Linked DNA regions of Homo sapiens: region 2 is linked to region 1. Evidence: fine-mapped expression QTL. A gene starts in region 1. The other region holds a variant in brackets. All regions are shown on one strand. Distances are from middle to middle.

The links. PIP is the estimated chance that this variant, and not a neighbour inherited with it, causes the effect.
Region 2: its variant is the best candidate, but not a certain one, in a credible set for the expression of TXN2 in blood mononuclear cells (TOPMed, PIP 0.87).

Annotation. Positions count from the first base shown.
Region 1 is chr22:36,478,537-36,483,906 of GRCh38, forward strand. It overlaps TXN2 (thioredoxin 2), which reads right to left and starts at 3,104. Exons shown (of 4, transcript NM_012473.4): 1 at 3,028-3,104; 2 at 2,039-2,301. The coding sequence starts at 2,301. RefSeq lists an enhancer at 3,534-4,480.
Region 2 is chr22:36,458,647-36,464,016 of GRCh38, forward strand. No RefSeq gene overlaps it. Among named protein-coding and RNA genes, the nearest start is that of TXN2, 20 kb to the right of the region's middle. RefSeq lists an enhancer at 2,804-3,336. The variant TGAGGTA/T (reference allele first, on the strand shown) is at 2,753.

The DNA of each region.
Region 1 (5,370 bases):
TGGAGTGCAATGGCGCGATCTCGGCTCACTGCAACTTCCGCCTCCCGGGTTCAAGCAATTCTCCTGCCTCAGCCTCCTGAGTAGCAGGTGTGGTGGTGCACACCGCACCCAGCCAGGCCTGACGGTTTTAAATGCTGAAAAATAGGCCGGGCATAATGGCTCACACCTGTAATCCTAGCACTCTGGGAGGCCAAGGCGGGAGAGAATCACCTGTGGTCAGGAGTTTGAGAGACTAGCCTGGCCAATATGGTGAAACCCCGTCTCTACTAAAAATACAAAAAAATTATCTGGGTGGTAGTCCCAACTACTTGGGAGGCTGAGGCAGGAAAATTGTTTTAACTCGGGAGGTGGAGGTTGCAGTGAGCTGACTGAACCACTGCAGTCCAGCCTGGGTGACAGAATGAGACTCTGTCTCAAAAACAAAAAAGGAAAAAAAACCCTCAGGCCTGGCGCAGTGGTTCATGCCTGTAATCCTAGCACTTTGGGAGGCCAAGGTGGGAGGATTGCTTGAGATCAGGAGGTAGAGACTGCAGTGAGCCGTGATCGCACCACTGCACTCTACATTCTAGCCTGGGTGACAGAGTGAGACCTTGTCTCTAAAAGAAGAAAAACAAAAACAACTCATAACACTGAAAAACCCAGTGTGCAAGACCTTATCTCCTATTACAAGTGAAGAAAGGGAGCACAAAGATATCAAGTGGCCTGCCCAAGGCCACAGGGTGAGTCAGAGAAACAACTGGAAAGCCAGCGAAACAATCTGTCAGAGACCTGACCAGAAGGCCCTTCAATTTCTTTTTCTTTTTTTTTTTTTTTGAGATGGAGTTTCCCTCTGTCACCCAGGCTGGAGTGCAATGGCGCGATCTCAGCTCACTGCAACCTCCACCTCCCAGGTTCAAGCGATTCTCCTGCCTCAGCCTCTTGGGTAGCTGGGATTACAGGTGCCCGCCACCACGCCCGATTAATTTTTGTATTTTTGGTAGAGATGGGGTTTCACTATGTTGGCTGGGCAGGTCTCAAACTCCTGACCTCAGGTAATCCACCTGCCTCGGCCTCTGAAAGTGCTGGGATTACAGGTGTGAGCCACTGCGTCCGACCTGAAGGCCCCTGAATTTTTAACTTATGCTACACTGGTTTCTCCCAGGATGCCTCATTCAGAGGGCTTTGTCCAGCTTTTGTGTAGTTGGGTGTCTAGCCAGGCCCCAAAGATCTAGAAATGAAAAAGCCCAGGCTAAAATTCAGAAGGCCAGAGGGACTTAAATATCTCTAAAGCAAACTCAGATAGCACTGAAAGGAAACTCCTTCCTATGCCCTGTATGCTTGGGCACCACGGTAGTGACACCGATAACTTTTTTTTTTTTTTTTTGAGATGGAATTTCACTCTTTTTGCCCAGGCTGGAGTGTAATGGCGCGATCTTCAGCTCACTACAAACACTACCTCTTAGGTTCAAGTGATTCTCCTGCCTCAGCCTCCCGAGTAGCTGGGATTACAGGCACACACCACCACGCCTAGCTAATTTTGTATTTTTAATAGAGACAGGGTATCACCATGTTGGCCAGGCTGGTCTTGAACTCCTGACCTCAGGTGATCTGCCCGCCTTGGCCTCCCAAAGTGCTGGGATTACAGGCATGAGCCACCGCACCCGGCCGACACTGATAACTTTTTGCCAGCCCTTCTTGCGGTTTTCATGGCAGGATGTTAACATCAGCTTATCTGCAGGGCCAGGAACTGGTATACACCAAAAGCAAGGTGACAGTCATATTTTTCCAACTCTGGTCCATGCTAAAGATGACGCTGAGCTTTCTGGGGATTGAGAAACAGAACATGTGTTTCCCAGCACTAACAGTCAGCTTTGCAGACTGTTCACTTGTCTGTCTTCCACCAGACTGCATTCCCCTTGAGGGCAGGGACTGGGCCTGACCAGTCTGTATATTGAGTCTACATATGAGCAGCATAGAACATGGCCGTGGGACACAGCAGGCATTCAATAAATACTTGAACAAGTAGGACCCTAGTCTTCTGTGGACCCCCAATACTCACTGTGCGTGGAAATCCACAACCACTGGTGTCTCACTGTTGACCACTCGGTCTTGAAAGTCAGGTCCATCCTGGATATTAAAGGTTGTCAAGGAGATCCTCGTGGTGTATATTGTCCGGGCTGGGTTGGGTGTTACAGTCAGGCCACCAGGACTGCATTGTGGGGTCTGCAGGGCTCTGGAAGTGAGGGGTGGCCACTGACCCTGAGAGGGCTTCCTGGAGATGACAGAGGCCAGGAACCTCCTCAGAAGAAGTCGCTGAGCCATCTGTGAGGGAAAGAGGCAGAAGAACTGGGGCACACAAAAGGAAGTCGACACACTAGAAAAAGATTTGGGGAGTACTCAGGGCTCAGGAAGAGGCAGAGTTGGAAGCAAAATGCAAGGAAATCATATGTAAGATTTGTAGCGTGGAAGTGAGGAAGCAATGAGAATCAAAGGGAAGGAACAGCTAGGCAAACCAGAAGGACAGGAAAACTGGCTTCACAACCAAAAAGAAATCGGGATTTAGATTATAACGGAAGAATGGGAGGAAGAAACCAACAGATTTAATAATGTATGTAAGGACCAAGTACCTTACACACATTATTGGTCTTCCTACAGCAACTTCCAGGAAGTTGCTATTGTACTGCCCACACTGCGAGTAAGGGAAGGAATACGAGGCTCAAGTAAGTTAAGTGACATGCCCAAAGTAACCCCGCTATTAAATGACAGCCAACACTGGAACCCAGGGTCGTCTGAAAAGATGAAACGCAACAATTCAAGGAGGAACTAAGAGTGTGAGAGGAACCAAAAACGAAGAGACATGTACTGGAGGGAACCAATAAAGAAGGGACATGTGTGGAGGGAACTGGGAAAAATCGGACATCACCAGGGACCCTGGCTCTCCGGCGAGCTAGATCCCCCCGCCCGCCCGGCCGCCAGCCTGCGCAGGAACGCGCTCGCGGCATGCCTCAGCCGCGACACCACCTCGAGCCACCCCCACAGGGCTCCTACCTCCCTGCAATGCGAGCGGAGGGATGCACAGCCTAGCCCTCCCTGCCTGTCAAGGGCACGCCTGTCGTCACTTCCTCGGGGGGGGACGTACATAACGTCACTTCCGGGTACAGGCAGGCGGAAGAGCGTCCCTCTCCAATTTTTTTTTTTTTTTTTTTTTTTTTTGAGCCAGAGTCTCGCTCTGTTGCCAGGCTGGGGTGCAGTGGCGCGATCTCGGCTCACTGCAACCTCCGCCTTCCGGGTTCAAGCGATTCTCCTGCCTCAGCCTCCCGACTAGAGGCGCGCGCCACCACGCCCAGCTAATTTTTTTATTTTTAGTAGAGACGGGGTTTCACCACGTTGGCCAGGACGGTCTCGATCTTTTGACCTCGTGATCCGCCCGCCTCGGCTTCTCAGAGGGTTGTGATTACGGGCGTGAGCCACAGCGCCCATCTGTCCCTCTCCAATTTGAGGGGCGTCTGGGATTTTCCGCCAATGGGAATGGCGGGCTGAGGCACAGTTGAAGGGGCGGGGCCTCAGCTACGGACCGGAAGCAATGGGCAGGCCGTCGGGGAACGGATTGGAAGAGGCGGGCGGGCCCTGGTCTGGGCGAAGGCGGGGGCGGGGCGGGGCGGAAACGGAAGGGGTGGGCGGGCCCTAGAGGAGGGACCGGAAGAGGAGGTGATGGAGCAGGGGTAGCAATGGAGGGTACTTAAGGGAGAAAAGGCAGTTGAGAAGTCCCCGTGGTTTTGGATTTTGCAAACTCTTGTTGCTTTATTTTATTTACATATATTTATTTATTAATGACAGAGTCTCGCTCTGTCTCCCAGGCTACAGTGCAGTGGCGTGATCTCCGCTCACTGCAACATCCAAATCCCGGGTTCAAGTGATTTTCCTGCCTCAGCCTCCCAGGTAGCTGGGATTACAGGCGCGCGCCACCACGCCGGGCTGATTTTTGTATTTTTAGTAGAGACGGAGTTTCGCCATGTTGGCCAGGCTGGTCTGGAACTCCTGAGCTCAAGTGATCCGCCCGCTTCAGCCTCCCAAAGTGCTGGGATTACAGGCGTGAGCCACCTTGCCTGGCCTCCTGTTTATAACTGGCGCTGTCCACTTCCTACAGATGTTGACAGGTTCTGTTTCTCCATTTAATATGTAAAGCTAAGCTCCTCAAAGGCATGATGCCCTTTATATGTAAAAGAACTCAACCGGGAGTTTAGGGGCCATCCTTTAAGTGGCCCTCGTCTGTGTCCGCCTAAAGGAAAACAAATGAAAACTGAGGCGAGCCTAATTTAAGCAGGGAGTTTTTTTGGGTCAAGTTCGAAGACTGCAACTCGGAGCAGAGATTCAAGTTGTCCTGAATATACACTCGGATTAGCAGCAGCTGAAAGAGCGTTTTTAAAAGAACAGGCAGTTTCCAAATTGTTGATCAAAGTTTTTTTTTTTTTTTTTTTTTTTTTTGAGACAGAGTCTCGCTCTTGTTGCCCAGGCTGGAGTGCAGTGGCGCGATCTCGGCTCACTGCAACCTCTGCCTCCTGGGTTCAAGGGATTCTTCTCCCTCTGCCTCCCCAGTAGCTGGGACTACAGGCGTGCCTCACCACGCCTAGCTAATTTTTATATTTTTAGTAGAGACGGAGTTTCACCATGTTGGCTAGGATGGTCTCGATCTATTGACCTCATGATCTGCCCACCTGGGCCTCCCAAAGTGCTGGAATTACAGGCGTGAGCCACTGCACCCAGCCTTTTTTTTTTTTTTTTTGAGACGGAGTCTTGCTCTGTAGCTAGGCTGGAGTGCAGTGGCATGATCTTGGCTCACCGCAACCTCCACCTCCAGGGTTCAAGGGATTCTCCTGCCTCAGCCCCCCAAGTACTTGGGATTACAGGCGAGCACCACCACACCTGGCTAATTTTTTATATTTTTGGTACAGAAATTTTATATTTCACCATGTTGGCCAGGCTGGTCTCGAACTCCTGACCTTAAGTTATCGCTCGCCTCGGCTTCCCAAAGTGCTGGGATAACAGGCGTGAGCCACCGCGCCTGGCCGCCCTGCCCATTTTTGTATCGGTTTTCTGTGTCTCTAGCACTTTCTTTTCCACAGCCACCTATCAATCCTATTCAGCACTTCCACAGTATTTTCTAGAGAGCCAATTTTCCTGCCTAATTCACATTCTGAATTTCACAGGCGGACCAGTCCTGTTTGTCCTTATGCCATAGTCACTTCACCCTGATCGGCCTCAGGCTTCTCATCTGAGCAATGGGAAGAATGCCTTTCTCATAGCTGGGCTGAGGGTTGCAGTAGAGACAGAATCCACATCATTGCTGCCTGATGACTCCTGCAGGGAAAGCCTGAGAGACACAGAGAAGGC
Region 2 (5,370 bases), 20 kb before region 1:
CCCTCTCCTGCTCCAAACTTGCTAGCTTCCTTCCCTATCTCAACATCATAGGGACCCTTCGAGATGGGAACTACTAATAGGGGAAATCATATGGGAAACCAGGCTGGGCGCAGTGGCTCACACCTATAATCCCAGTACTTTGGGAGGCCGAGGTGGGAGGATCACCTGAGGTCAGGAGTTCCAGACCAGCCTGACCAACATGGTGAAACCCTGTGTCTACTAAAAATACAAAAATTAGCCGGGCGTGGTGGCAGGTGCCTGTAATCCCAGCTACTCAGGAGGCTGAGAGGTAGGGGAATCACATGAACCTGGGAGGTGGAGGTTGCAGTGAGCTGAGATCCTGCCACTGCACTCCAGCCTGGGTAACAGAGTGAGACTCCATCTCAAAAATAAAATAAAAAATGACCATATCCTTATAGGAACCATTATTTTGAACTCAGAATCTCAGAAAAACCAGGATTTGGGGCCTGGAACTTTCTTTGTCTTATTTTGTTTTGTTTTGGATTTTTTGGGGAGACAGAGTCTTGCTCTGTCACCCAGGCTGGAGTACAGTGGCGCGATCTAGGCTTACTGCAAGCTCCGCCTCCCGGGTTCACGCCATTCTCCTGCCTCAGCCTCCCGCCACCACGCCTGGCTAATTTTTTGTATTTTTAGTAGAGATGGGGTTTCACCGTGTTAGCCAGGATGGTCTCCATCTCCTGACCTCGTGATCTGCTCACCTCGGCCTCCCAAAGTGCTGGGATTACAGGCGTGAGCCACCGTGCCTGGCTGGGGCCCGGAACTTTCTAAGGCAGAGGCGGCAGAGACAAAGAGGTGGCTGGAGGTGGGGCAGTGCCGAGCCAAGTCTCAGGACATCCCTACTGCCGAGCCTCCCCTCCCACAAAGTAAACCGGCAGGTGGGCAGTGCAGGCGGGGCCCAGCTCGGGTTTCACTCCTTCCCCGCTCTCGGGGACAATAAAATGCTCCCTTTGCCCTGGAAATCCCACTTGTATAAAATCCAAAAGAAGAAATAAGCTCTTATGTTCAAACAGGTTTGTTCCAACCTCATTTATAATGGAAAAATATTAACTGAAAAATTCCTTAGTATCCGACAATGGGGGAGAAGTTAACAGTTTGACCGGAGCTGAGTGACATGCAAAAGGGTGTTTGTGGAGTGCAGGGAGCTCCTGCTGTGTGTGTGGGAGGGTGGAGAGGGCATGGGGAGAGGAGCAGGGACCCCAGAGTCAGACTGTCTAGGTTTAAATCCTGTCTGCTCCTTCCTAGCTGTGTGACCTTGAGTCATAACCCAAAGCCCTCTGTACCTCCATGTCCCCCTCCATAAACTGGCACTGGGCTGGGCATGGTGGCTTATGCCTGTAATCCCAGCATTTTGGGAGACCAAGGCAGGTGGATCACCTGAGGTCAGGAGTTAGAGACCAGCCTGGCCAACATGGTGAAACCCCGTCTCTACTAAAAATACAAAAATTAGCCAGGTGTAGTGGCAGGTGCCTGTAGTCCCAGCTACTCAGGAGGCTGAGGCAGGAGAATCGCTTGAACCCAGGAGGCAGAGGTTGCAGTGGGCCGAGATTGTGCCACTGTGCTCCAGCCTGGGTAATAGGTGACAGAGCGAGACTCCGTCTCAAAACAAAACAAAACAAAAAAAAGGAGAGAGAGACTTGGGGGATGTGTGTGCCCAGAGGAAAATCCATGTGAGGACCCAGCAAGAAGGTGGCCACCCGCAAGCCAAGCAGAGAGGCTTCAGGAGAAACCAACCCTGCCAGCACCTTGATTTTGGACTTCCAGCCCCAGAACTGTGAAAAAATAAACATCTGTTGTTTAAACCACCCAGTCTGTGATATTTTGTGATGGCTGGCCTAGCAAACTAATACACATTACTAACACACAATAAGAGAAGCGTTTAATAGGGCGCTTACCACGTAATTGCATTGTGTTCTGACATTACATTTACGATCTCATAACCATGAGGAGGGTCCTGTCCTCCCATTTCAGAGATGAAGGAAACTGAGGCTTGGCTAGTGACGGAGAGGGCTGTGACTGGAGCCAGGACTGTGTGACTCCAAGGCCCCACCAAAGCCTCCTCCTGGGATGGACCATGGACTTTCCTGCCTCTGTGCTGTGCATACGCTCTCCCTTCTGCCTGGAATACCCTTCCCACCACTTGCCTCTCAGGACGAGTCCCAGTCGATTCTTCAAAACTCTTCTTGGCCCGGCAAGGTGGCTCACACCTGTAATCCCAGCACTTTGGAAGGCCAAAGTGGGTGGATCACTTGAGGTTAGGAGTTTGAGACCGGCCTGGCCAACATGGTGAAACCCTGTCTCTACTAAAAATACAAAAATTAGCTGGGCCTTGTGGCAGGTGCCTGCAATCCCAGCTATTCAGGAGGCTGAGGCAGGAGAATTGCTTGAACCTGGGAGGTGGAGGTTGCAGTGAGCCAAGATCACACCACTGCACTCCAGCCTGTGCAACAGAGTTAGACTGTCTCAAAACAAAAACAAAAAACAACTTTTCTCAAGCATCACCTCCTTCCCATGCTTTACCCGACAATCTCCTTTTGCAGATGTGCTGCTTTTCAGGGCTTGCGGCCAGTCTGTACTCTGTCACCATGGTGGTAAATGTCATCTCTCCTGTAGCATTTAGACTTTAGATGTGTCCATGTGTTTGCTGTGAACTCCTGGAAGGCAGGGGCTGTGTCTTGCTCTAGTTCCTATCACCCAGCAGGCCCAGAGGGGCTCCGCACAGACGCTTGCTGGC[TGAGGTA/T]GCCAGTTTGGCCTGGAGAGAGTATTCCCGCCTCAGGAGTGGATCATGAGGAAATGGAATCTCCTGCCTCCTTGTGGGGTGGGGGTTGGGGGAGGTGGATAAAAGAGAGGCTCCACCTGGCACGGTGGCTCGTGCCCATAATCCCAGCACTTTGGGAGGCCGAGGTGGGTAGATCACCTGAGGTCAGGATTTTGAGACCAGCCTGGCCAACATGGTGAAACCCCATCTCTACTAAAAATACAAAAATTAGCTGGGCACCTGTAATCCCAGCTACTCGGGAGGCTGAGGCTGGACAATCGCTTGAATCCAGGAGGTGGAGCTTGCAGTGAGCCAAGATTGTGCCACTGCACTCCAGCCTGGGGGAAAAGAGCAAAATTCCATCTAAAAAAAAAAAAAAGCGGATCAAGGTCCCTACTCTGGGCATGAGAGGAGGGATCCTTTGACACTCCTGGGAGCAGCAGTGTGGCAGAGGAGGAGGAGCAGGGCATGGGGTCAGCCACCCTCAGTCCATTTCCCAGGGTGTGGCCTTAGGCACGGTCACTACCTCTCTGGGCTTCTGTCTCCACATGTATGAAATGGAATCAGTCCCTCCTTCCACAGGTGTTAGGTCGAAGAAGGCACCTCTGGTGGTATCGGCACAGAGGCTGGACACTGGATGACTTCTTTGCTGGGACACTGAGGTAGGGGGCAGACCAGAGACAGACAGCTACTTGCCTAAGCTCACCCAGCAAGCTGGCTGAAGGTGGAGAACTGGCTTGTCCTCCAGTTGGTAGTTAACAGCTGTCTAGCAGGAGTGTTCTTGCTCCCAGGAGACGCTCCGTTGGCTGCCACAGAGGTAAGCGTGAGAGTGCGCTCAGAAGTGGCTGGGAGGCATGGAGAACAGAGGAGCAGGTTCAGGGTGAATTCCAGTGGGCATTCTCCAAGGGTGAGGTCACTGCCTCCAACTCCCTAGGGCTGCCTGAGACACAGGCACCACCAAGCCAGCTCCAGAGCAGGAGGAGGTGGTGGCAGGGACCAGGGCCAGGTCACAGGGCTGAATGTAAGGCCCTCAGCCTGGTACAGCGACGGGCCCCTCCCATGGTGCTGGGGTCCTTACCTTGGGAAGCCCGGTGTTTCCTGTTTAAGATGTGGCTGGGGGTAGGGGAAAGGAGAAAGCCACACAGATAACACTTCTGGAACTTCCAATCGGTGCCAGCGTGCTTCCACCTGCTGAGCCGTGACCTCATTTGCAGGGACTGTCATGAGCCCCAACTTGGAGATGGTGCAACTGGGGCTCAAAATGGTGAAAACCTTGTCCCAAAAGGAAAGCAGTATAGCTAATGAGCAAGAACAAAGAGAATTTGAAATTAAAGACATTGGGGTTCATTCTTTTCCCCTTTTTTAAAATTTATTTTTGGGCCGGGCACGGTGGCTCACGCCTGTAATCCCAGCACTTTGGGACGCTGAGGTGGGCGGATCATTTGAGGTCAGGAGTTTGAGACCAGCCTGGCCAACATGGTGAAACCCTGTTTCTACTAAAAATACAAAAATTAACCAGGCATGGTGGCAAATGCCTGTAATCCCAGCTACTCGGGAGGCTGAGGCAGGAGAGCTGCTTGAACTCAGGAGGCGAAGGAGGTTGCAGTGGGCAGAGATCATGCCATTCTACTCCAGCCTGGGCAACAGAGCAAGATTCCATCTCAAAAACAATAAAATAAATAAATAAAATTTATTTTTTATATTTTTATTTTTTAGAACAAGATCTCACTCTGTCACCCAGGCTGGAGTGCAGTGGTGAGATCACAGCTCACTATAGCCTCAAACTCCTGGGCTCAAGTGATCCTCCCACCTCACCCTCCCAAGTAGCTGGGACTACAGGCGCACACCGCCATGCCAGGCTAATTTTTTTTTAAATTTTGTGTAAAGACAGGGTCTTGCTATGTTGCCCAGGTTGGTCCCGAACTCCTAGGCTCAAACGATCCTCTTGCCTTGGCCTCCCAAAGTGCTGGGATTACAGGCGTGAGCCATCGTGTCCGGCCACATCGGAGTTCAAATCTGAGCTCTGAACTCCATTCATGCCAAGTTACTTAAGCCCTCCAAGCCTCAGTTTCCTTGTCTGTAAAATGGCGGTAACAATGGTCCCTGCTGTTGGGGTTGCGGTGGAGACTCAGTGAGAGGATTCATGTAGCACACACTCAGTAAGTGCCAGCTGTCACTGCCAGCCTATTTCACCACCGTGAACACAGAGCCTCAGAATGGAAAAGCAGCCTGCCCAAGGTCGCACAACTTGCAGGTGGCACAGGCAGGATCTGAATCCAGATCAGATTCTTCCCGCCCTACTTCTATCACCGTGGAAGGGCCTGGGGGGGCCTGCAGCCAGGAGGTGGCTGGAAAGGGAGGTTCCTTGGAACAACCAGTGGCCCAGGCTTCCTGCAGAGCCGGGGACCCCAGCCCTGGCCAGGGTAAGGGTCACGCCTGCAGCTGGTGTTCCAGGCATCGGAGAGGAACTGCGGCTGCAGGCCTGGCAGCCTTACCGTCGCCAGCATCCTGCCCTCCATGGACACGGCCCCAACATTGTTTTCTGGGCCGTTCCCTGCCCAGAGCCCACACATTCGGGATTTCCGCAGCTTGGC